Regions from separate parts of the Homo sapiens genome. Here regions 1, 2, 3, 5 and 6 are each linked to region 4. The links come from fine-mapping of genetic effects on gene expression. A gene starts in region 4. Each other region holds a variant in brackets. All regions are shown on one strand. Distances are from middle to middle. Region 1 overlaps TMCO1 (transmembrane and coiled-coil domains 1). Region 2 has its middle 17 kb from the start of MGST3. Region 3 overlaps MGST3 (microsomal glutathione S-transferase 3). Region 4 holds the start of ALDH9A1 (aldehyde dehydrogenase 9 family member A1). Region 5 overlaps TMCO1 (transmembrane and coiled-coil domains 1). Region 6 holds the start of UCK2 (uridine-cytidine kinase 2).

Evidence for each region.
Region 1: its variant is fine-mapped to the expression of ALDH9A1 in whole blood (INTERVAL, PIP above 0.99).
Region 2: its variant is fine-mapped to the expression of ALDH9A1 in whole blood (INTERVAL, PIP above 0.99). The same link has a PIP of 0.9 or more in prostate.
Region 3: its variant is fine-mapped to the expression of ALDH9A1 in whole blood (INTERVAL, PIP above 0.99).
Region 5: its variant is fine-mapped to the expression of ALDH9A1 in whole blood (TOPMed, PIP above 0.99).
Region 6: its variant is fine-mapped to the expression of ALDH9A1 in whole blood (TOPMed, PIP above 0.99).

What each region holds. Positions count from the first base shown.
Region 1 is chr1:165,761,612-165,765,611 of GRCh38, forward strand. The region is part of intron 2 of TMCO1 (transmembrane and coiled-coil domains 1); the gene reads right to left. Among named protein-coding and RNA genes, the nearest start is that of TMCO1, 5.3 kb to the right of the region's middle. The variant C/G (reference allele first, on the strand shown) is at 1,512.
Region 2 is chr1:165,612,657-165,616,806 of GRCh38, forward strand. No RefSeq gene overlaps it. Among named protein-coding and RNA genes, the nearest start is that of MGST3, 17 kb to the right of the region's middle. The variant A/G (reference allele first, on the strand shown) is at 2,197.
Region 3 is chr1:165,648,299-165,652,376 of GRCh38, forward strand. It overlaps MGST3 (microsomal glutathione S-transferase 3), which reads left to right. Exons shown (of 6, transcript NM_004528.4): 2 at 1,543-1,666; 3 at 2,716-2,789; 4 at 3,680-3,737. The coding sequence starts at 1,550. Among named protein-coding and RNA genes, the nearest start is that of MGST3, 19 kb to the left of the region's middle. RefSeq lists an enhancer at 2,116-3,315. The variant T/C (reference allele first, on the strand shown) is at 2,177.
Region 4 is chr1:165,695,990-165,700,139 of GRCh38, forward strand. ALDH9A1 (aldehyde dehydrogenase 9 family member A1) reads right to left here and starts at 2,573. Exons shown (of 11, transcript NM_000696.4): 1 at 2,389-2,573. The coding sequence starts at 2,569. It also overlaps the pseudogene CA14P1. RefSeq lists enhancers at 2,309-2,538, 2,382-2,964, 2,829-3,008 and a silencer at 2,569-2,758.
Region 5 is chr1:165,754,291-165,758,290 of GRCh38, forward strand. The region is part of intron 3 of TMCO1 (transmembrane and coiled-coil domains 1); the gene reads right to left. Among named protein-coding and RNA genes, the nearest start is that of TMCO1, 13 kb to the right of the region's middle. The variant G/A (reference allele first, on the strand shown) is at 1,619.
Region 6 is chr1:165,827,399-165,831,548 of GRCh38, forward strand. UCK2 (uridine-cytidine kinase 2) reads left to right here and starts at 216. Exons shown (of 7, transcript NM_012474.5): 1 at 216-534. The coding sequence starts at 436. RefSeq lists silencers at 5-254, 335-814, 875-1,104 and an enhancer at 570-1,123. The variant T/C (reference allele first, on the strand shown) is at 1,765.

The sequences.
Region 1 (4,000 bases), 66 kb after region 4:
ATAAAAGAAAAATGTCAAATTTCACATTTTAAAATGTTATAAAAATAACATTTTATGTCGGGTGCAGTGGCTCAGTTCTGTAAGCCCAGCACTCTGAGAGGCCAAGATGGGAAGATCATTTCAGTTCAGGAGTTCGAGATCAGCATGGGCAACACGGTGAAACCTCGTCTCTACCAAAACTACAAAAATCAGCCGGCCATGGTGGTGCACTCCTGTGGTCCCAGCTACTCAGGAGGCTGAGATGAGAGGATCATGGAAGCCCAGGAAGTCAAGACTGCAGTGAGCCATGATTGGGCCACTGCACTCCAACCTGGGTGACAGAGTGAAACCCTGTCTCAAAAAAATAAATAAATAAATAATAAACATTTTTATTAAAATGTTATAAGGATAACATTTTTATTAAAATGTTATAAGGATAACATTTTTATTAAAATGTTATAAGGATAACATTTTTATTAAAATGTTATAAGGATAACATTTTTATTAAAATGTTATAAGGATAACATTTTTATTAAAATGTTATAAGGATAACATTTTTATTAAAATGTTATAAGGATAACATTTTTATTAAAATGTTATAAGGATAACATTTTTATTAAAATGTTATAAGGATAACATTTTTATTAAAATGTTATAAGGATAACATTTTTATTAAAATGTTATAAGGATAACATTTTAAAAGACAAAATGGACAGAAAACACTTAATGTTTTGTTCTTTATCATTGTTATTAAACAAAGAAACAAAAATATTTCTTTCCCACCCCAGAAGGACTATAACACAACTACTTGGCATTTAACCATGACTGCATAGAAAACAGGGCAATAAAAAGACAGAAGGCTAGAGAATAGAAACATAAGACAATTCCATAAACATTAGTCTGGTCTTCTAGAAGACCAGATTGAGACTAGATAAATTGTTTTTAGGGATAAATTAATCTAATGTTTTTCAAACTTCATGAGGTTGTGATGAAACCTTGGTGTGTGGATATTTATTCATCAGAATCTCACCTGACAACAAGAAGTAGAAATGTCAGAGTTGACAAAAATAAAAGATGTCTACTATGAAACACATTTCTGTCCATGATCTGTATTCCTGCATTCTAAATTCCAGAGTTCTGCCAAACAGTTTATAAATTATTCTAAAAGATTTATCCTATTTTACCGTAAACAACAGAAATACCTCATACTTCACAGCAATTTATACTTAGTAAGTGCTCTCAAATAAACAACTGTGTTACAAGAATCAAGTTATATATACTGTATTTTAATCTTTTTCATTTATTGAAGTATCCTTTCATTAGTATATATTATAATAGTAACACAATAAAAGAAGACCTACTGATATTTAGAATACATCTATAAGCCCAGTGACCACCTGAGTCAACCAACTCACTACCTTTAAGAAAGCATTTCCTTTTGTTAAAAGCAGCTCAGTAGGACTGCTTTTTGGACAACAGTATTCTTCTAAAAATGCCAAGGACCAGATCAGCACAAGCAAAGTAACCTGTAT[C/G]AAATTCTGATTCAAACCTCTTTATATTTTTGATATTCTTCAAAAACCCTACAAACTTCCCTTGCTTAAATTCATACTACGTTCTGAATACAAAGTATCAGAAGGAATTCTGTATTTGCAATTAAGACATTTGTTCAAAGAGGAAATTTACCTTATATTTTTCCTTTTTAATATTCCTCATGCTAAATATAATAGTTGTGCATTTGATTATACATTCCAGAAGACAGAATTTGTGGCCGCTCATTTCATATTGTACTTACTACAGTAAACTAAACACATAGCAAGCAATCAAATAAGTCGACTGATCACATAAATAAAAATAATACACGTTTACTGAGTTTTGGTAGATTATCCAGAGTAGAGGACCTAAGACCACAAGAAATGCCATGAGTCATTCCAATCATCAACCTACCTCATACTTACCTTCAAAGGAAGCATATGAAGAAATTATAGTAAAATTGCAACTACAGATGTGTAAACTGGCAAATGTATTACTTTGTTTCATTTTTGTTAGAGATTGGGTCTCAACTCTGTCACCTAGGCTGGAATGCAGTGGCCCAATCTCCCCTCTCTGCTCACTGCAAACCCCGCCTCCTGAGCTCAAGCAATCCTCCCACCTCAGCCTCCCAAGTAGTTGGGACCACACACACATGCCACCATGTCAGGCTAATTTTTTGTACATTTTGTAGAGATGGGGTTTTGCCATGTTGCCCAGGCTGGTCTTGAACTCCTGAGCTCAAACAATCTACCTGCCTCAGCCTCCCAAAGTGTTGGGATTACAGGCGTAAGCCACTGCACCTGGCCTCAACTGTATTACTTTGAATTGCAGTGTACAGTAAAGGAGACTTTTCATTTATTTCTATAAAGTAAATAATTAAAGACAAGGCAATATTGTAGATACCAGTGAAGCTCAAAATCTATAAGGCAAATCCATATTATATAAATATTTAAGGTATAAGAATATTCAAACCAATTTGAAGCTAAATTTGTTTTGTATTTCATAAAACTACTCAATGATATAAATGACATGAAGAAATGTATACAGGGATGCCATTGCATGCTGCCAACTAGCATAGGATCATAGCAGAACAATTTTTCACAAAGAATATATGTGATGTTATGCTACACAGATAATTTATTAAATACACATTTATCAAGTATCTAATATGTGCCAGGCACTGCATTAGGTACTGTGGATACAATGGCCTTTGTCCTCATAGCAATTACAGTTTTGTTGAGGAGAGAGACATTACCCTGATGACCATAATCATATATAGGTAAAACTGCAGTTGTGACAACCACTCTAAGGAGAGGTATGTGGATAAATCATAAACTATGATAGGAAGATTTGGCCCTGTCTGGGAGACTGGATAAGGCTTTGAGATCTGAAGAATGAGTAGGAGTTTACTAAACAAAATGAGAAGGGAAACTTATCGCAGGTAGGAGGAACAACAGATACAAAGTGCCTGTAGTAGGAAACCATAAGACTAGCCCAGAGGACAGAAAAAAGGCATGAATGAATAGAGAATAGGGAGCAAGAGAGAATATGATACAAGATGTAGCCAGGAGAAGGGAGGGTGGTACTGTGCTGTGCTGGACCTTACAGGCCACATGTTTATCCTAAAGCAATGTGAAGAAATTGAAAGGTTTTAAGAAAGACAAGTAACATAATCAGATTTGTGTTTTAAAAAATTACCCTAGATGCATTATAGGGGGCAAATTTGAGTGGCTGCAGATGGACCAGAGAGGAGGTTACTGCAGCAGATTAAATGAAATATAATAGAAGTTTAGACTAGGTGGTGATGGGAGAAATGAAGAGATGTGAAATGATCTGAAAACTATTCAGGAAAACAACAATAGGGCTTGGTAATGGACTGCATATATGGGGCAAAAGAAGAAAGCATTCAAGTCAACAAATGTTTGTTAAACATTTACTATGTGCCAGTCAGTGTTCTAGGTAAACAGGATACATAGGTAAACAACAACAAAGAACCGTGCCCTAGTGGAGTTTTCATTCTAGCAGGTAGAAATACACAATAAGCAATAACATGATAAATAAGTAAATCATACAGTATATTAGAAAGTAATAAAAGCAACAGAAAAAATAGAACAGGGTAAGGAATATTAGGAGTAGGGGAGATGGGCAGGTTGCAGTTTTATTTTATTTTTATTTTTTTTGAGACAAGAGTCTTGCACTGTTGGCCAAGCTGGAGTGCAGTGATGCAATCTCGGCTCACTGCAACTTCCGCCTCCCAGGTTGAAGCAATTCTCCTGCCTCAGCCTCCCAGGTAGCTGGGATTACAGGCATGTGCCACCACGCCCAGCTAATTTTTGTATTTTTAGTGGAGACGGGGTTTCACTATGTTGGTCAGGCTGGTCTCGAAGGCCTGACCTCGTGATCCACCCACCTCAGCCTCCCAAAGTGCTGGGATTACAGGCCTGAGCCACCGCGCCCTGCCTTGCAGTTTTAAATAGAGTGGTCAACTTAA
Region 2 (4,150 bases), 83 kb before region 4:
TCTTGGGGATATAAGACAGCCAGAAATTTACTATACTGGTTCTCCTTCCTCTCTGAAGTAGACCACTTTTCATCTCCTGTCTATAGCCACTAAACACCAGCTTGATTGCACTGTAACTCCTTAAATAAAGAACTAGTTACTTAAATAATCAACTAGTTACTAGGTACACTACTATTTTGAATGAAACTAGAATTTGCCCCAAGATATTGGCCCTAATATATATTGCTTGCCTAACTTTCCATTGCTATGTTTATACAGATCATTTCTTCCCATCAAGAATCCACAAGAATATTATACCTATGTACCCCTGGCCCCAACAACCCATTATCGTGTGTACCAGATGGCCACACATTAATCCATCTCCCACAGTCCCTTGCTAAGGTGTGCTTCCGGTGCTTGCATTCTTTGTGCCTATGTGTGGCTTTGACTTTATGATTAAGGAAAAAAGATGTTTTTGCTTTTTTAAGTCCAAGCAGTGAGCAAAATGTAAAACAGTTCCTATAGAAAAAAATAGACATCAGTAAAACAAAGTGGAGAGTCCAAAATTAAACCAAATGCCTAGAGCATTTTAGTTCATGGTAAAGGCTACATTTTAAACAAAGAGGATAAACATGAATTCATTGACAAATTGTTAAGGGGAAAGGCTAGATTCCTCCTGCATTCTGTCCTTTTGGTGCCTCAAAAACTAAACATATGCCAGGTGTGGGAGCTCAGGCTTTGTAATCCCAGCTCTTTGGGAGGCTAAGGATTGCTTGAGCCCAGGAGCAACATAGCAAGACCCCATCCCTAAAAAAATTGCTTTTAATTAGTCAAGTGTGGTGGTGTGCACCTGTAGTCCCAGCTACTCTGGAGGCTAAGGCAGGAGGATCACTTGAGCCCAGGAATTTGAGGCTGCAGTGAGTGAGCTATAATACCATCACTGCATTCCAGCTTGGGCAACAGAGTGAGACCCTGTGTCTAAAAAGACCCAAAGATTTAAACTTAAATTATCAAAGATTTAACATATATTAAGGAGTTGAACATAAAATAAACCATAAAATTTCAAAAAGAAAGCATGAGTGAAGATGAAAACCTTACCAAGAAGGATATAAAATCTAAAGATCATAAAGTAAAAAACTGGTAAATGTGAATACATAAAATTTTTTAAGTATGAAATAAAAGTAGCCTAAACAAAGTCTAAAAACCAGTGTCAAATTAAAAAAAGATATTTGCAATATATATGATAGCAAAAGCCTAATTTCTTTAATTTATAAAAAGTCTATATAAGTTAATAAGAAAAAATGACAACCCAATATAAAAATGGGCAAAAGATAAGAACTGGCAGTTTTCAAAAAAAGTTACAGTCATGAAAAACAAATAAATAAACTTAGATAAGTACAAATCAAGACAAAAAGTGAAATATCTGTGAGATTAGCAAACATTTTTAAGTTTGATTATAGCCAATGTTGTTGATGACATGAGGAAGCAGGCTTTTGGGAAATAAACTGATGGAATCTTGGGGAAGAATATTTGGCAGCAGCTATCATATTTACAGCCCCTTTGGTCCAGCTTTCCCACTAAAAGAGAGATATACTATGGATAGATTCACAGAAGTTTGCCAAGCAGCCATAAAAAAGAACAAGATTATGTCCTTTGCAGCAACATGGATGGAGCTGAAGGTCATTATCCTAAGTGAACTAATAATGCAGGAATAGAAAATAAAATACCACATGTTCTCACTTGTAAGCAGGAACTAAACAATGGGTACACATGGACAAAAAGATGGAAATAATAGACACTGAGGATTCCAAAAGAGGGAAGGGGGAGCGGGGGAGAGGGTTGAGAAATTTCCTATTGGATACGATGTTCCCTATTTGGGTCATGGGTACACTAGAAGCCCACCAGTATGCAGTATATTCATGTAATAAACATGCACATGTACTCCACGAATCTAAAATAAAATGTTTAAAAAAATTTAAGTTTGCCAAGATAATCTATGAGGTTAGTTTCATTACAGTTTTTGTAATTGCAAAAAAATTTTAAGAAAGACAGAAAAAACTCTAAACTGACCATTAGCAGGAAACTTATAAAATATATATTTTTTATTTCAATAGGTTTTGGGAGAACAGGTGGTGTTTGGTTACCTGAATGTGTACTTCAGTGATGATTTCTGGGATTTTAGTGCACCCATCACCTGAGCAGTGTACACTGTACCCA[A/G]TGTGTAATCTTTTATCCCTCACCCCCCTCCTATGCTTCCCCTCAAGTCCCCAAAGTCCATTGTATTACATTATTCTTATGCGTTTTTGGCCTACTAGCTTAGTTCCTGCTTATAAGTGAGAACATACGATGTTTGGTTTTCCATTTCTGAGTTACTTCACTTAGAATTAACAGTCTGCAACTCCATCCAGGTTGCTGCGAATGCCATTATTTTTTTCCTTTTTATGGCTGAGTAGTATTCCATGGTATATATATACCACATTTTCTTTATTCACTTGTTGATTGATGGGCATTTGGGCTGGTTTCATATTTTTGCAATTGTGAATTGTGCTGCTATAAACATGCATGTTCAAGTGTCTTTTTCATAATATGACTTCTATTCCTCTTGGTAGATACTCAGTAGTGGGATTGCTGGATCAAACAATAGATCTACTTTTAATTCTTTAAAAAAACTCCACACTGTTTTCCATAGTGGTTGTACTAGTTTACATTCCCACCAGTAGCGTAAAAGTGTTGCCTTTTCACTACATCCACACTAACATCTATTTTTTTTTATTTTTTAAATTATGGCCATTCTTGCAGGAGTAAGATAATATCGCATTGTGGCTTTGATTTGCATTTTTCTGATAATTAATGATGGTGAGCATTTTTTCATGTTTTTGGCCATTTGTATATAAAATAAATTTGTATATAACTATTTTGAGAATTATCTATTCATGTCTTTTAGCCCACTTTTGGAAGAAATTTTTTTTTCTTGCTAATTTGTTTGAATTTCTTGTAGATTCTAGATATTAGTCCTCTGTCAGATGAATAAATCGTGAAAATTTTCTCCTACTCTTGGGTTGTCTGTTTACTCTGCTGATTTTTTTTTTCTATGCAGAAGCTTTTTCGTTTAATTAAGTTCCATCTATTTATCTTTGTTTTAGTTGCATTGCTTTTGGGTTCTTGGTCATGAAGTCTTTGCCTAAGCCAATGTCTAGAAGGGTTTTTCAGATGTTATCTCCTAGAATCTTTATGGTTTCAGGTCTTAGATTTTAAGTCTTTGATCCATCTTGAGTTGGTTTTTATATAAGGTTAGAGGTGAGGATCCAGGCTAAAGCACAAGAATCACTTGAACCCGGGAGTCAGAGGTTGCAGTGAGCCAAGATTGTGCCACTGCACTCCAGCCTGGGGGACAGAGTGATACTCTGTCTAAAAAAAAAAAAAGGTGAAAAGATATATCTCTTAAATTAGAATATAAATAAAGCACAGCCATACTTGACTTAGAAAAATAATAGAGCACAGGCAGTCATTGTTCTCTTTTAATTTACAACTTTTAACCTGAAGTGCTTAAACAGGGAGGTCCTAGAGAGCTTTTTATCTGAAAAGCTGTGTGAAGTGTTTGGCCCTGCCATACCATTCCCTTGCCCTCCATGTCTTTTGCTCAGGGACCAGGGAATTTGACAGGAGAATGTCAGTGAATGGGCAGAGTCAGAGCTGAGGCGAGCAGATCTTTGCTGAGGAGACATTGGACATAAGGTGTGCTCATAACACTACCTGAGCAAACAGCTCAGCTGTTGCAAAACAGCTCAGCATCAGAGGAGGCAGAAGTGATGCTAAGACTCCACTCATTCACAAAGGAGAAGCCAAATCAAACAGCTTGGCAAATCACAGCAGCTTGCTCAGATACTTGTTCTTTCCTTTATTAAACAAATATTTATTTGACACTTATCAGATGTTAAATTTGCCATAGGCCCTGGGAAAATAAAGGTGAAGTTTTTTTCCTGGAGGGATATTACTTTATAATGGAGGAGTGACACAGTAAGTGAATACATTATAACAAAAGATTAGATAGTAAGTGGTCTGAAGAGAAATAAAGCAAGGGAAGGAGATAGTGACCAATTGCTTGCCTATTTTAGAAGGACTGATCAGGAAAGGCCTTTCTGAGATGGTGGCATTTGGGCAGAGACTTGCA
Region 3 (4,078 bases), 48 kb before region 4:
CGGTAGAAGGGGAAAACTGATGAGAATTATTGTGAATCATGGTGGGGAGGAGGGGTTTTAAGAAGTTAGGCCTGTTAGGCTGGGTGCGGTGGCTCACACCTGTAATCCCAGCACTTTGGGAGGCCGAGGTGGGTGGATCATCTGAGCTCAGGAGTTCAAGAATAGCCTGGCCAACATGGCAAAACCTCGTTTCTACTAAAAATACAAAAATTAGCTGGGTGTGGTGGTGCGCATCTGTAATCCCAGCTACTTGGGAGGCTGAGGCAGGAGAATCACTTGAACCCGGGAGATGGAGGTTGCAGTGAGCCGAGATCGTGCCACTGCACTCCAGCCCGGGCGACAAGAGTGAAACTCCATCTCAAAAAAAAAAAAGCAGTTAGGCCTATTTTGCTGTGCTAAGAGAAACTTACTTTTAATGAACTGAGCTGCATGCCTATCCCAAATTCTGTTTTAAGGAAGATGCTCTGACCACAGTGTCAGTTTGGCTCTAAAGTTTCAAGGGATACTGAAAGGGAATATTGGAACCAAATGAATCTGAATGGGAATCCCAGGTCTGTCACTGTCTGTTTTAGACCTTGGAAACATTACTTAACCTCTTTTGAAAATAAGGATTTACCATCTTGTTGGTTGGTTTGTTAGGATGATTAGATACATTCCAGATCAGGGTAACTCTCCTAGGTTAAAAGCAGGGACTGAAGCCAGGCAATTACCAGGGATGGAAATTTTAAAGCTGACGGCAGAACACACACCAGAGCTGCTGGCTCGTGGAAGCCTTTGAAGTGATGATTTGATGGGCAATCTGAGTTCCTCAGGAGCTGCCCAAAGCCTCATAGGCTCAGGAGCCATGCTCTGCTTTCAGAGTACTCAACCTGGGCCTTCCCCTACCTGTGTGAGATGTCTGCTGCTGCACCCGCACGTGCCCCAGGATCGAAGGGAGGCCTCAGAGTCCTGCCCTCACAGTGTCCCCCATGTCTGAAGGCAAAAAACTTGGAATCACTGTGCATATACTATTTTGGATGCTCGCTTTCTTGCTTTCTCACTTTCTTGCTTTCTCTCTCTCTCTCTCTCCCTCTCCTCCCTCCCCACTCCCTCTCTCTCCCTCTCCATCCCTCTCCCCACCATGTCCTGCTCCTCTCACTCCCTCCCTCCCCCTCCCTATGTAATGTATACTTTAGCATTTTACCATGTTAAATATTTTTTCAATAATGTGATTTTTGTTGGCTATATTATTCTACAGCAACGACTACTGCAGTGGTGTAGATAAATCTCATAATGTTGATCAGAATCTCCCAGGCACAAAAGAGAAAAAAAGATACATGACTGTATACTTTTCTGTGTATAGACTGCATAGTTGAGTAATTTTTAAATTATTTTATATGGTACTGTCTTTGATGACTTCTCAGAAACATCAGATTGATTCATACCTTTTTTTGGTCTCTATTTACTCATTTGCCAGTAATAAAGCATCTTGCTCCCTAAGGCTTCACACCATGAAATAGCCACAGTGCTGGGGGCCGTCCCAACGTGTTCTTTCTTCCACAGACGCAAGATGGCTGTCCTCTCTAAGGAATATGGTTTTGTGCTTCTAACTGGTGCTGCCAGCTTTATAATGGTGGCCCACCTAGCCATCAATGTTTCCAAGGCCCGCAAGAAGTACAAAGTGGAGGTAAGTGGGAACACAAGCTGGTGCCCTTGTAGGCTTGTCTGGGGGCCACAGGCTTAGCCAAGAACTTATTTTCAGCCATGGAGGGAGAGGCAAGGAGCTAGTTGTGAGAAGTGGCAGTTTCAGGACTGTGTTAGCGATTCTGCTTCTTCATGGTAGGAAAGAGGCAAGAAATACAGGGCCCTGCTAGGGAGTAGTTTCCATCTTGTTTGACTTTGTCTCTTCGGTAGAAAGACCAGGAATGCTGGGATTCCAATAGTACACTTCTGCTTGGAGCTATTTGCTAGGAAGAGAGTTACTGTATTTTCCACAGAGGGTTAAATAGCAATATTGTTTCATGGTGTGCCACTTTAAAAATGATGTCTTATGGTGATTTTCCTGTTTTCCAAGTAGAAAAGAGGTATGTGGTGTTGAGATTAGCCTGGACTTAGACATAGGAAGGTGGTCTATTAAACACTTCCTTTAGTTTTAGGTGATCTAGAAGGGATAATTACCAAAGTTGTCCCTGGTGAG[T/C]GGTTTTAAATGTCTGTTTCTGTTTAGCAACTTAATAATTAAACTCCCTTACTAGAGCTTCTTTTAAGTTTTTATATTTAGTTTCTTCTTTTTTTTCCCTTCCAGTGGACACTTCCATTAAGATTCTCACACACTCAATTTCTGTTCTTCTATTAAGGGAAATCTTAAAAGGATGTGGTATTTGATGACTCTTAGGAAGGCTCTATTTCCCTACAGTATCTTTGTAATGCATCTGAAATCCACCATTGATGCTTAACGTCAATGAAAAGCACGGAGTTTGGCGCAAAGCTGCCTCTTTCCCTTGTGCAACTACAGCGCAGACATACATTCTTATTCCTGGATATTTAATAGAAACATTGACTCTGCTTCTGAGAATTGAGACCCTTGTCACCATAAATATTTAAGCAGAAATTGAATGGTCATCTATCAAGGGTGTGAAAGAAGATACTTTGGAATATATTGTTTTTAAGGTTCATTTTAACTTTCAACACTGAATGCTCCTCTTGACCATCTGATCAGTATGTGCTTTGTTGTGACAGTATCCTATCATGTACAGCACGGACCCTGAAAATGGGCACATCTTCAACTGCATTCAGCGAGCCCACCAGAACACGTGAGTGTCGGCCCTGCCGGGCACCAAAGACATCTGCAGAGTGGGTGTTTTCTGTCTAACACCTCAGCCCTTAGTGCGCTGTATTTGCTGAGTCATAGTGATGGTGACAATCATGGGCACCTCATTAAAAGTATTCAAAAATTATGTATGTGAACACATTGACTATTAAGCAAACTTAAGAGTGGTTGGAATGGTGGGATTTCGGGATATTCTTTTCAAAAAATGTCTTCATGGTTGCATTACCTACTACAGTTTTGCAGCATGACCCATCTAAACCGATGTTGACTCTCCCAGGCCTAGGGAGTGAAGAGGTTTTGAATGCTGTAAGGAAACCCACTCTGACTCACCAGGACCTTCCACTTCCATTTGTTAGATGTGAGGTCCTTTTACTCAGCATGTTCCAAGTGACCTCTAATCCCATGCAGAGCAAAGGAGGGTGGATGATAGTGACCAGGTCTTCTCCCTGCGGTGAATGTTTATTTTTACCCCCAAGCTTCTAACTTGGCAAGGAAGATGTAAAGATTCATAGTGCTGGCTGGGTGAGGTGGGCTCACACCTGTAATCCCAGCACTTTGGGAGGCCGAGGTGGGTGGATCACTTGAGGTCAGGAGTTGGAGACAAGCTTGGTCAACATGGCAAAACCCCATCTCTACAAAACTTAGCCAGGCATGGTGGCACGCACCTGTAATCCCAGCTACTCAGGAAGCTGAGGCATGAGAATTACTTGAACCCGGGAGGCGGAGGTTGCAGTGAGCTGAGATCATGCCACTGCATTCCAGCCTGGGTGACAGAGACACTCCGTCTCAAAAAAAAAAAAAAAAAAATTCATAATTCTACACAGGCATACTTAAAAAGGGCACTTTTTAAAAGTTTCTTTCTGTCAATTCCAGGTTGGAAGTGTATCCTCCCTTCTTATTTTTTCTAGCTGTTGGAGGTGTTTACCACCCGGTAAGTTTTCCAGGAGGTGTTCATCTATTTGGATAGTAGTTCACTGAGCTATTATCAGGGACAGAAGAAGGAAATAAACATTTAATGAATATCTTCAGTGTCTAGGCACTGCATATTTAAAAGGATTTTATTCAATTATTTCTTACAGAGTTCTTTAAAGGAGATGGGATTTTCCTCATATTTTACAGATAAGGAAAAGCCTCTCATATACTATTTAAACTTCACAAGGTCAAATAGCTACAGAGTAGAAGGATTAGAATTTGAACTCAGGTCTGTCTGGTTCTAAGTTTCATGTCTATAAGAGTTCATTTGTTATAGTAATTCATTCACACAACAAACTT
Region 4 (4,150 bases):
TACAGGCGCCTGCCACCACACACAGCTAATTTTTGTATTTTTAGTAGAGACGGGATTTCATCATGTTGGCCAGGCTGGTCTTACATTCCTGACCTCAAGTGATTCACCCACCTCTGCCTCCCCAAGTGCTGGGATTACAGCCATGAGCCACCACACCCGGCCTAGCAGTTCTTAACTGTATTTTGCGGTCATTGACATTAGGAGTCTGATAAAAGTTGCAGACCTCTCTCCAGAAAAATCTACTTAAACATATAACAGAATTACAGGAATGTCATGTCCCCTGCCCTAAACTCATCAAGGATTTAGAGTTAAGAACCCCTGCCCTCTACTATTTTACAGTTGAGTTTACTAACATTAACTTCTGATTAAGTTTTGCAACACTCCTAAACATTATCTCAGAATCTCAGGGGTCTTGTAAAATGAAAGTCAAAAGTAATCAGTCTATTGGGTTATAAACTCTGACTGTAAATCCCTTGTCTATATTCTATGTAGGTTATATCATACTACTTGATACTTGATAAATATAGTTAATAAGCAGTAATATCAGGATAAGGCAACCCTAAAGGAACATTTTTTTTTTCTCAAAAATTCCCAGATTTCCTTTTCTTATTCCACCTTTATTCCCTCTCCCTATTCTGGTGCAAATTATGAAACAATCAGTTTTTCTAGGCCCATAGCCCAAGGACTGTACTGCCTCTACCAACAAGAATTCTTTAAGTTTGCCAACTCAGCAAATCCTCTTCACAAGAACTCCTGGGACTCTTTCCAGGGAGATTTCACAAATCTGCAATTTCTGTTACAAACTTGAATAGCCAGCTGGTAAAGGCGGTGGCTGAGGATCACACACACTGTAGGCAATTAAAGCAAAGAGCAATTTTTCTTTCTTTTGTATCAGGATTAAGTCGGGGTAGAGAAGCTGTTTCCTCCTATATAAAGAAGAGATGTGATAATGCCTTCTGGCTCTGCCAAGTCACTGCTCTGTGGTTTAGTGTGGATGGTCAAATACTAAATTCTCCAGTCCCCTGCAAATCAGTTTTATTGCTCTGGCTACATTTTACACAAAATATTTACATTTTTCTCCCCACATATATTCCATAAAACCCAGCAAAATAAACACAACACAAAACCAAAACAAAAAGCCCCTTCTTCCTTATCTCTGTGACCTTCAGAGTTCCCAGAGTAAATCCAGTGCCTAGCACAGTGCTTAGCACACATTAAGCACTGGATTAAAAAGTTTTATTTCAGCAAGATGAATAAATTGTGGAGAGCTCACGTAGACCATGGTGACTATGGTTACCAATACTGCATCATATACTTGAAATTTGCTAAAAGAATAGATCTTAAATATTTCACTATCCAAAAAAAGCCATTAACTATGCAGAAGCAATGGATAATTAGATTGACCGTGGTAACCATTTTGCAAGGTATACATACATTACAACACGTTTTACACCTTAAGTATATACAATTTTTATTTGTTAATTATACTTCAATAAAGCTGGGGAAGAAAGTACTGAATAAAGGTGGGGTTTTTTCCTTTCCCAATTCTGATTAATGTGCAGAAATATTTTAATATTAGAATGTGGAGACAAAGTCCTCATTCGTAGTCATTAGAAACTATCTGTGAGCGTTCCTTCATTCCCAGCACAAATGATTATCTTCCCCACAACCCCGCCCCGTTCTTTTAGAATTCCTCTCCTATGCACACATTTGAAGACAATAATACATCAGTCCTGGTTTTAAAAGGGGGAACAGTTGGCTGGGCTTGGTGGCTCACGGCTGTAATCCCAGCACTTTGGGAGGCTGAGGCGGGAGGATCACCTAAGCTCAGGAGTTCGAGACCAGCCTGAGTAACATGCTGAAAACCCGTCTCTACTAAAAATACAAAAATTAGCCGGACATGGTGGTGGGAGCCTGTAATCCCAGCTACCAGGGAGGCTGAGGCGGGAGAAGCACTTGAGCCCGTAAGGTAGAGGGCGCAGTGAGCTCTGAGATGGTGCCCCTGCACTCCAGCCTGGGCGACAGAGTGAGACCCTGTCTCAAAACAAACAAAAAACAAACAAACAAACAAAACAAACAAAAAAGGAAGTTAACAGAGGCACGACTTCCCCCACCAGTACTTTGCGAACTCTGTTCTGGCCCGGGTAAAACAACTCACGATCCTACCACGCAACTCATCAGCTTTGCTTTTCCTCCCTACCCATCCCTGCCCGGAGGCACTCGCGTTGCCCCAGAATCGCTAGTTGCCTACACACACAACCTTAGACTCTCCACTGTCACTGTCTTGTGCTCAAGTCAACGCTGCAGAACACAGGAAACGGGGGCTGGCCGGGAAATCCGCGCATCCGGCCCCAGGGCGCCCCAGCCTCCCCGGCTCGTTGCAGTTACCGGTTGCTGGCTCGAAAGCTTTCTCGGTACCGGAGGCGTCCGCCGGCTCCACGCGGGCCCCGCCGCGGTAATTGAGCGGCTGCGACACGACGAAGGTGCCAGTGCTCATGGCGGCGACAGGAGAGGGCCGAAGACTGCGAAGAAGCGGGGAGAGCGCGGCCAGGCCTGCTCGGAGAAACATGAGTGGCGGACGCAGCTCCGCGGCAGAGGCTGACGGGCCGCGGGAGGGGCGGGGCCGCGGGAGGGGCGGGGCCGCGGGATCGGTTCTAGGAGATTTTAGGGGCAGTCACTCGATTCCTCTGCGGTCCAGGCCAGGCCCTCCCCTCGCCAGGAGGGTGGAGCAAGACACCACATTCTCCCCACCACCCCGCCATACCCCACACAGTCTCCAGGCGGGAAGAGGACTTCCTTCTTCGTGATCAATATTTGCGTAGCACTTTGCAAGTGTTTTCGGGTTCATCATTGCATGTAAGCATCCTAGGATCCCATTCTTAATCCTATCGCCTGAAGAAGGCAGAGGATTGGAGTGCCAAGAGTCTTTGGTGGTTACTTCACTGCTAAACCACCGTTTCTGTAATTGTATAATGCTTTTTAAAGGGTGACAGTAAAAAGCAAGGGGACTGTGAACGAGATAGATGATATTGTGATCTGAAACTGCTTTTTAAATTCTTAAAGAGAGACTGGGCGCTGTGGCTCTCACCAAGGCTGGAGGATCGCTTGAGCCCAGGAGTTTGCGGGCAACAGAGAGAGATCCCGTGTCTATAAAAAAATAAAATAAAAATAATAAAAATTGGGCCGGGCGCGGTGGCTCACGCCTGTAATCCTAGCACTTTGGGAGGCCAAGGCGGGCAGATCACCTGAGGTCAGGAGTTCGAGACCAGCCTGACCAAAATGGTAAAACCCCGTCTCTACTAAAAATACAAAAATTAGCTGGGTGTGGTGGCGGGCGCCTGTAATCCCAGCTACTTGGGAGGCTGAGGTGGGAAAATCGCTTGAACCCGGGAGACGGGTTGCAGTGAGCCGAGACTATGCCATTGCACTCCAGTCTGGGTGACAAGAGTGAAACTCAGAAAAAAAAAAAATTATCCAGGTGTGGTGGCACACGCCTGTGGCCCCAGGTACTTGGGCGGCTAAGGTGGGAGGATCCCCTGAGCCCCGGGGGTCCAAGCTTGCAGTGAGCTATAATCGTGCCACTGCACTCAGGCCTGGGCAACAGAGCGAGACCCTGTCTCAAAATAAATAAATTCTGAAGGAGCAATGTAAATGCTATTAATGACAAATATTGATAGAAACAGAAGCCTAACATACAGAATACGAAGAGCAAAGGCCACAGGAAAAAGTGTCAGGAAACAAAATGCCTTCTGTAAGACAAAGCAGCCACCCAGAGGCACTCACAGGTCTGTCAGCTGAGGGATCTTGCACAAAGGTTCATTCTTCTCACCAAACTTCCATGCACCTCCAGTAGAGACTTTGACAAACAGAAAGTAATTGGCAATTTGGACATTTCTTTTAGGATTGTTTCTCTTCTGGGGGCTGCTGTCTTTCTCAATGTTTTTTCCTTTACCTGCCAGCTCACCAGCGCAATATTAGGGAGTGTGGTTTTCAGGTTTAGAGTATATATAATGTATTCTGATCAAGTTTTCTGGCACTCTATACCAGTTTGTTCACTTTTTCAGTGCTACTGAGATGTGTAGGTCTTGGTCCTCAGATGGAAACAGCAGTGCCCAAACTCAGAATACCTGAGGCCACACTCACATATTAT
Region 5 (4,000 bases), 58 kb after region 4:
AGATGGTTAATACATACAATGCTGAGCACAAAGCAGCTGTTAAATAAACTGTCACTGATTGGTGATTACAAAAGCACTCTATCTCAATATCATTTAATAAGATGATGAAAACACCTGGGATAGTATACGTTTTGTACTCAGAAGATTCAAATGCAGCAGAGCACCAAAATATTTCAATTTAAATAAATAAATCTTTAGTGTTTTTTTGAAATTACCTCTGGTATTAAATGTCTTAACTCTGTACATTAATATATATGCTTATGTTACACCAAAGGGAATTGCCAATCAGTTAATTTGTAAGTATAACATAATGATTGTACTTAGATGTCTCAAATTAGTTATCCTTCTCTTAAATTTTCTATTTTTTCAATTTCTCTAAAATGGCATATAGTCTAAAATTATAAGCCAGTTGATAGGATGAACTTAAAATTCAGGTTCTAGCTGGGCAATCCCAGCTCTTTGGGAGGCTGAGGTGAGAAGATCACTTGAGGCCAGGAGTTCAAGACCATCCTGGGCAACATAGCAAGACCCTGTCTCTGCAAAAAATTTACAAATTAGCCAACCGTGATGGTGTGCCCCTGTAGTCCCAGCTACTTGGGAGGCTACAGTGGGAGGATTACTTGAGCCCAGGAGTTTGAGGCTGCAGTGGGCCATGAACGCGTCACTGTGCTCCAGCCTGGGCGATAGGGTGAGACTCTGTCTGAAAACAAAAACAAAAACAAAAACAAAAAACTACGCATTCTCTAAGTAGTGAACCTTTAGAATACAACATCTATGAAATTTGACAAAATTTCATGGAGAGAATAATCTGGAAATATGCAAAAGATACATTTATATTTAGAATGATTTCTTTTCCAAGGTGACTAGCAAAAGGGAAAATTAAAATTCAGAAAAGGAATACTCCAAAAATGGAGGCTACATTTCTTGTGGCTATTGGAATAAACTAGTAGCAATGATGACATCCATTCTGACCACAGAGTCAGTAGACCTTCAGCCAATCCAAATAACATAGAAAAAGGCCTAGAATGAGTGTATAAATTCAGGGCCCCAAATATATTAAATTTCAAAAATTTCCTCTCATATTTAAATCCAAGTCATGAAGAAAAGAGGCCATGTGTGGTAGCCCACACCTGTAATCCCAGCTCTTTGGGAGGCTGAGGTAGGAGGATTGCTTGAGTCCAGGAGTTCAAGGGCAACACAGAGAGACCCCATCTCTACAAAAAACTTAAAATTAGCCAGGCATGGTGGTATATGCCTGTAGTCTGAGCTATTCAAGGAGGCTGAGGCAAGAGGAGTTGGGGTTGTGGTGAGCCATGAACATGCCACTATACTTCAGCCTGGGCTGACAGAGGGTAACCTTGCTTCAAAAACAAAAACAAAAGCAAAACAAAACAAAAAAAGAAAAGAGATACTTATCCCACTCAGACAAGCTTCAGAATGTCTGCTCTCCCTTTCCCATCCACCTTCTGGGGACATCTGCCTGGCACCATACCTTGTTGAAGGGTTAGCCTCATGAAGATTTATAACACCCTCTGTCCTACTACTGCTGACCCAAGAGGCAGCCAAACCATAGGCTCTCCCATGACCTATGACATAAAAAGATCAGCTGGGCCAATTA[G/A]ATTCCTCTCTCAGGAATTTATGCTAGAAAATTTTGGGAAAATAAATCAATTAACTATGGGAACAGAAATAGAAAAGTTATAATATGGTACTGGCTCTGAAACTTTAATTTGCCTAAGAATTATATGGGCAGCTTGTTTAAAAAAAAAAAAAAAGAAAAAAGTAGACTCCTGGGTCCCACATCCAGAGATCCTGATTCAGTAAAGTCTGGGAGTAATACTTAGAACCCTTCATTTTTCACAAGTATCTCAAGCAATATTGATGTAGGTAATCTATGGATCACATTATGAAAATACTGAGATAGAACCCAAGGACACAAGCATCTGGAGCAGATATTCCTAAGGGGTTGGGAGTGGGGAAGGACACAGGGAAGGTTAGGTGAAGACAAAAGCTGAATGCCAAAAAAATTAGTGAAGTCTTACAGTGAAGATCCCTGTCCAGCTTTTTCTCAAGACTTGCTCTGCTTGCAGGACTTGCTTTACCACGGTTCCTGCCTTCCTGTAACCACTTAGTTCAGCTTTGCCTGAGTTTCTCATCACGTATATCCTTCAAATAAACCCCTTATGACTTCTTTATTTGGAATACAACAAAACAAACTATATAAAATTCATATACCAAAAGTAAATTCATTTTTCTTCTTATAAGAGGGAAATGCAAAATAGTCAAAACATTTGCTCCTGAAATTAAGAATTGGGAACATCAAATCTTCAGTTAAAAAGCAAAGGACGCTTCCACTGCAGATTAATGGTTCTCTCAAGGATTGTTATCAAAGAGCTTCACCTAGTGAAATCAATGACATTTTGCTTCTCCGGAACACTGAATATTGCTGGCTGCTTCCCTCTTACTGAAAACTCCCTTCTTTCAGTGCAGTGGCTTTACTCTTTATACTCCCTTTTCCCCAGATACTATATATATATTTACAAATATATACTATATATACAAATATAGTATATATTTGTAAATAAGCTCAAGTGAGGAATCTGGGCTAAGAAAAAGTAAGGGTTAGATAATAATGAAACTATATAGGATCAGTACATAAAAATACATTTAATTGGTCCTATAAAGTTGCTGGAGATGAACACCAAATGAGCAAATCTCATGATTTTCTTGCATGAGAATGAGCAAGTCTCATTCCAGGCTTATCAGCAGCCGATTCAAAGGAAAACAAAAATCAGTTCGAGCACAGTGTCCGTAAGATAAAATAAATCAATTACTTATGAGAACTGCTACTTTTCCTGATATTGAAAACTAATAGAAACAGTTTCCACAATTTCTTATCAAAAGACAATTGTGTAATGTTGTGGATGTTTTTGAATATATTCCATAGTAGTACTATAACAAATTGTATTATACCTGGCTGAATTTTTCATAATAAGCCTAACAATGCAAATGCCAAGGCGAAATACAGTAAAAGCGTTTTATGAAGTCCAAAATAATCCAGTTTAGGTTTACAGATTTCTGATAGTCTGGCTTAATCTAAGATTAAAATGTACAAATCTAGAGAATGGATAGATCATCTTTCAAGCAATTCTTCATAAATATTACATCTCATAATTTCTAATAAGATTTTGATAAGCAACTCTTCATAAATACTACTTCCTTTTTTGCGACAAAGTTTTGCTCTTGTTGCCCAGTCTGGAGTACAATGGCGCGATCTCGGCGCACTACAACCTCCACCTCCCAGATTCAAGTGGATTCTCCTGCCTCAGCCTCCCAAGTAGCTGGGATTATAGGCATGCACCACCACGCCTGGTTAATTTTTGTATTTTTAGTAGAGACGGGGTTTCGCCATGTTGGTCAGGCTAGTCTTGAACTCCTGACCTCAGGTGACCCACCCGTCTTGGTTTCCCAAAGTGCTGGGATTACAAGCGTGAGCCACCATGCCTGGCAATAAATATTATTTCTTATAACTTCTGATGAGTTTTTCTGGGGTGAGCAAACAATTCAAGGTTACACTCCATGTTAAGATCATTTGAATTCAGATACACCGTGTTGCCAATTTAAGGACAGAGGATAATCTGCCTTCCATTTTTATATCCTTCCTATTCTTTATAGCAAAGGTACTTGAAAGAGTTGTCCATGTTGAATGTCTTCATTTTCTCACTGTCTGCATTCTCAATGTCTGCATTCTCTTCTTCATCTATATGATCTGGCTTCTGTCCCCCATCATGCCACTGAAACCATTTTTGCTAGAAGCACTAATAACCTCCATTTCTTAGACATTTACCATCATCATCAGGCCCTTCCTCCTCCCTGACACTCTCCTCTCAACTTCTGTGACACTACTACTTTCCAACTTATCTGGCAATACTTTTTCAGAACTTTACTTCTTCTGTTGTTCCTTAAATTTCTGTTCCTCAAGACTCTTGGCCGGCATAGTGGC
Region 6 (4,150 bases), 130 kb after region 4:
CCCCAGGGTCCACTAGGGCGCGTCGGAGAAAGGGTTAACCGGGCGGGTGGGAGGGAAGGTCGGGCTCACACCTTTCGCAGAGACCTCGGGCGGCGGCGGGGCCCGGGAGGGGCGGAGGCTGGGGCCAGACGCCTCGCCGCCTCCGCCTCGGCGAATAGCAGCGCGCTGCCCGCCCGGATTGGAGCAGCAGCATCACGCTGACCTCTGCCTGGGATGTAAACCGGACCAGCCGCTGCGGGCAAAGGAAGGCTCTTGGCTCCTTCGGGAAACCCAGCCCCGTCACCGGGCTCCGAGCGGCTCGCAGGCGAGCGACAGCGGCCTCAGCCCCGGCAGCGCCCAGCGGCGGCTGCGGAAAGCGGAGGGAGTCCGACGCGGGCGCGGGCGGGGAGCGTGCGTCCGTTCGCACAGGCAGCGGGAGGAGGGGCGGCGCGAACCATGGCCGGGGACAGCGAGCAGACCCTGCAGAACCACCAGCAGCCCAACGGCGGCGAGCCCTTCCTTATAGGCGTCAGCGGGGGAACAGCTAGCGGCAAGGTACGGCGGGGCCCGGAGCCGCGCTCCCTTCCCGGCTTCTGTCCCTGGGCGGCGCATGTGGCCGGCGGCCGCGGGCCGTGTCAGTTGCGGCAGCCACCGCGTGGCCCGCGCGCCTCCGCTCCCGGCCGCGCTCCAGCGCCGAGTGCGCCCCGCGCGGCCTGGGGGCGCTGCGGCGGGGGCAGGCGAAGACTCGGGCCTTGGGGGTTCCGGGGGTACGCGGCCACGATCGCAGGGCGGGAGTGCTCCTCCGGCTTTTCTCCCCCCGCGTTAATAACTCGTGGCCGGGGTCCTATGGGGGAAGGGCAGGGAAGCGGATGCTTATTGTTTTGCAACTCCAGTGTCGGGGGAGAGGGCTTTCCGCAGGATCCCCCACTAACCCCCGATGGACTCCCTCAAGCCCCGGTCTGGCACAGACGTGCTCGCCCCGCGGCGCAGCCTGGTGCCGAGGGCGGAGCGAGCCGGGAAGCGCGGCCGAGAGGGCGAGGGTGGCGGGAACGCGCGAGGCGGCATCCCGGGGAAGGGGAGCCCAGTGTGGGGCTGCACGCAAGGGCTGGGGATTACAGGGGTTTCCGGGTAAAAGTCTGAGAGCCAAATAGGTGCCGTGACATCAATGAAACGATAATAGTAGGGGCTTCTGTTTTTTAAGGTTATAAGAGGAAACGTGGTCGGCTTCAATGAGAAAGTTGTACTGGCTCCAAGCTCTTCGGTGTCCAGGACGTACGCGTCTTGGATCCACGGAAGGGGGTCATCGTATGGGTGTCTGACCCTCTTAGGAGCCTGTTTCCTTTGTTTTATCCGCAAGGCAAGGAGAGACAAGGGAAATGACTTCCTAGCTTTACCCGGGGTTTTTTCTGCAGGTGGAGAAGGGTGGAGTCCTCCCAGATGGTTCTTTCTTTGCTCCCCTAACAGCCTTTAAGATGTGGCTACTTGTTTTTCCCACCGTTTAACACCCTCCAACTTCATTTGGAGCACGGGTTCCTCAAGGGATCCTGAGAGCTGGGTGCTGGGTGCTGGTTTGGAGAGGCAGGATGATGCTTCTCCCGGCTGGGGAGAGCAGAGCAGGAAGGCTGGTTGGCGCCATGAGGAAAGAGCCACGAGGTTTTAGCTCCCGAACCGACTCGTCAGTAGCCCCTCCTCCATGTTGGTTTTACATTTTTCCCTCCTGGTCTGGACTACTTTAGCGCAAGGAGCCCAGCCAGACACGGCGGCTGGCGCTGCTGGACTTCTTTA[T/C]TGATGAAGTTGATCTCGTCCGTAGCTCCCGGGGTTAGGAATCGGCCTGCTTTAGGTCCTGAAGTTTCTGTTCTGTGTGCTCCCTGGTTGAAGGCTTTTAAAAAAATTTGTAATTTTTGAGTATGTTCTTTACTATGACTTATACTAGTAATTCAAAGCAAAACCAGAATGCTAGCCCTTCAGGAAGCTTTACCTGTTCTTTTAGAATTATTCTTGCTCTTCTGGCATATTCCTGTTGGATTGGGAGCATTTTTTGTTGTTGTTGTTCATGGCTGTTTTCCCAGCCCTCCTAGCACAATGCCTGCCTGGCATGTAGTGGGGTCCAAATTTTAAGCTGAAGTCCAGTCCTCCTAAAGTGGGGAGGAGGCTTAAACTTGCATATGAGCTTTTAGAAACAAAATGATCTTGGTAATCATCTGAATAATTTAGTTACCACGAGGGTGAAAACTGCGACCCTAAAAGGTGAATAACTCTGTTATTGTTCTTCTTGTGTGTTTCTCAGTCGTCACCTGTTCTAACTTGATAATCAAGCTTTTGGTGTTACTTGGGTAAAGTGAGGGATGGGATAGTGGTGAGCCAATGTGGGAGTAGCTAATTCTCTGCTATTTTTATCCAGGAGGAAGAGTGTAGAAACTCTCAAGAAAGGAAGGGTCCGTTTTTCTGCAGTTTTCAAAGCATGTTGTACATTTTTATTTATTAATTTAATTTTTGAGACAAGGTCTCGCATTTCCACCTAGCCCAGAGTAAGTGGCACTGTCACAGCTCACTGCAGCCTCAGCCTCAACCTGGAGTAACTGGGAGTACAGGCTGGCACTATCATGACTGGCTAATTTTTTTGTTTGTTTGATTTGTTTTGTTTTTGAGACAGGGTCTCACTCTTTTGCCCAGGCTGGAGTGCCGTGGTGAGATCTTGGCTTACTGTACCCTCCACCTGTTGGGCTCAAGTGATCCTCCCACTTCAGCCTCCAGAGTAGCTGAGACTACAGGCTTGCACCATCATGCCCGACTAATTTTTTTTTTTTTGTAGAGAAGGGGTTTTGCCATGTTGCCAGGCTGATCTCAAATGCCTAGACTTAAGTGATCCGCCCGCCTCTGCCTCCCAAAGTGCTGGGATTACAGGTGTGAGCCACTACCTGGGCTGGCTTTTTAATCTTTATTTTTTTTATTATTTTTTTTTTTTGAGACAGAGTCTTGCTCTGTTGCCCAGGCTGGAGTGCAGTGGCATGATCTCGGCTCACTGCAAGCTCCGCCTCCCGGGTTCATGCCATTCTTCTGCCTCAGCCTCCCAAGTAGCTGGGACTACAGGTGCCCGCCACCACGCCTGGCCAATGTTTTTGTATTTTCAGTAAACACGGAGTTTCACTGTGTTAGCCAGGATGGTCTCAATCTCCTGACCTTGTGATCCGCCCGCCTCGGCCTCCCAAAGTGCTGGGATTACAGGTGTGCGCCACCACGCCGGCAATCTTTATTTTTTGTAGAGACTAGGTCACCATGTTGCCCAAGCTTGTTTGTACATTTTTGACATACGAATGATTGATAGTTTGTCATCCTTTAAGATTATTGATATTTTTGTTATTAAAAAAGTCCAAGACTGGGCCTGGTGGCTCACACCTGTAATCCTAGCATTTTGGGAGGCAGAGACAGGAGGATTGCTTGAGCCCGGGAGTTTGAGGCCAGCCTGGGCAACATAGTGAGACCCCATCTGTATAAAATGAAAATTGTGGTGGGTCGAGAAAGTTATTTTGACCTATGTTTAAAACCAGATTCTCAGCTTGGGCAACATGGTGAGACTTGTTCTCTACAAATAATAAAATTATCCAGGTGCAGTGCTGCAGGTCTAGAGGCTGAGGTGGGAGGAATGCTTGAGTATGGGAGGTCGAGGCTGCAGTGAGCTGTGATTGTGCCACTACACTCCAGCCTGGGTGACAGAGCAAGACCTGTCTCGAACAAAAACCAAAAAAGGTTATGGCTGAGTACGGTGGCTCACACCTCTAGTCCCAGCACTTTGGGAGGCCAAGGAAGGAGGATGCCTTCAAAACCAGCCTGGGCAACAGAGAGAGACCCCGTCTCTACGAAAAATTAAAAATTAGCCATGTATGTGCCACCAGCTTCTCAGGAGGCTGAGGCAGGAGGATGGCTTGAGCCTAGGACTTGGAGGCTGCAGTGAGCTTTGATGGTGCCACTGTACTCCAGACTGGGCAACGTAGCAAGACCCCATCTCAAAAGCAAACCAAACCAGATTTTCATATTTCCCCCTAAAGGACAGGTGTAATAACACTAAAAGGTGGAAAAAAACCCAGGCTAAACTTCTTTGCCTGCATACATATCTGTGACTTTTAGGTGTCATTCTGTTTCCTTTTCATCTTTGCCTGTTCCTTGTTCTGTA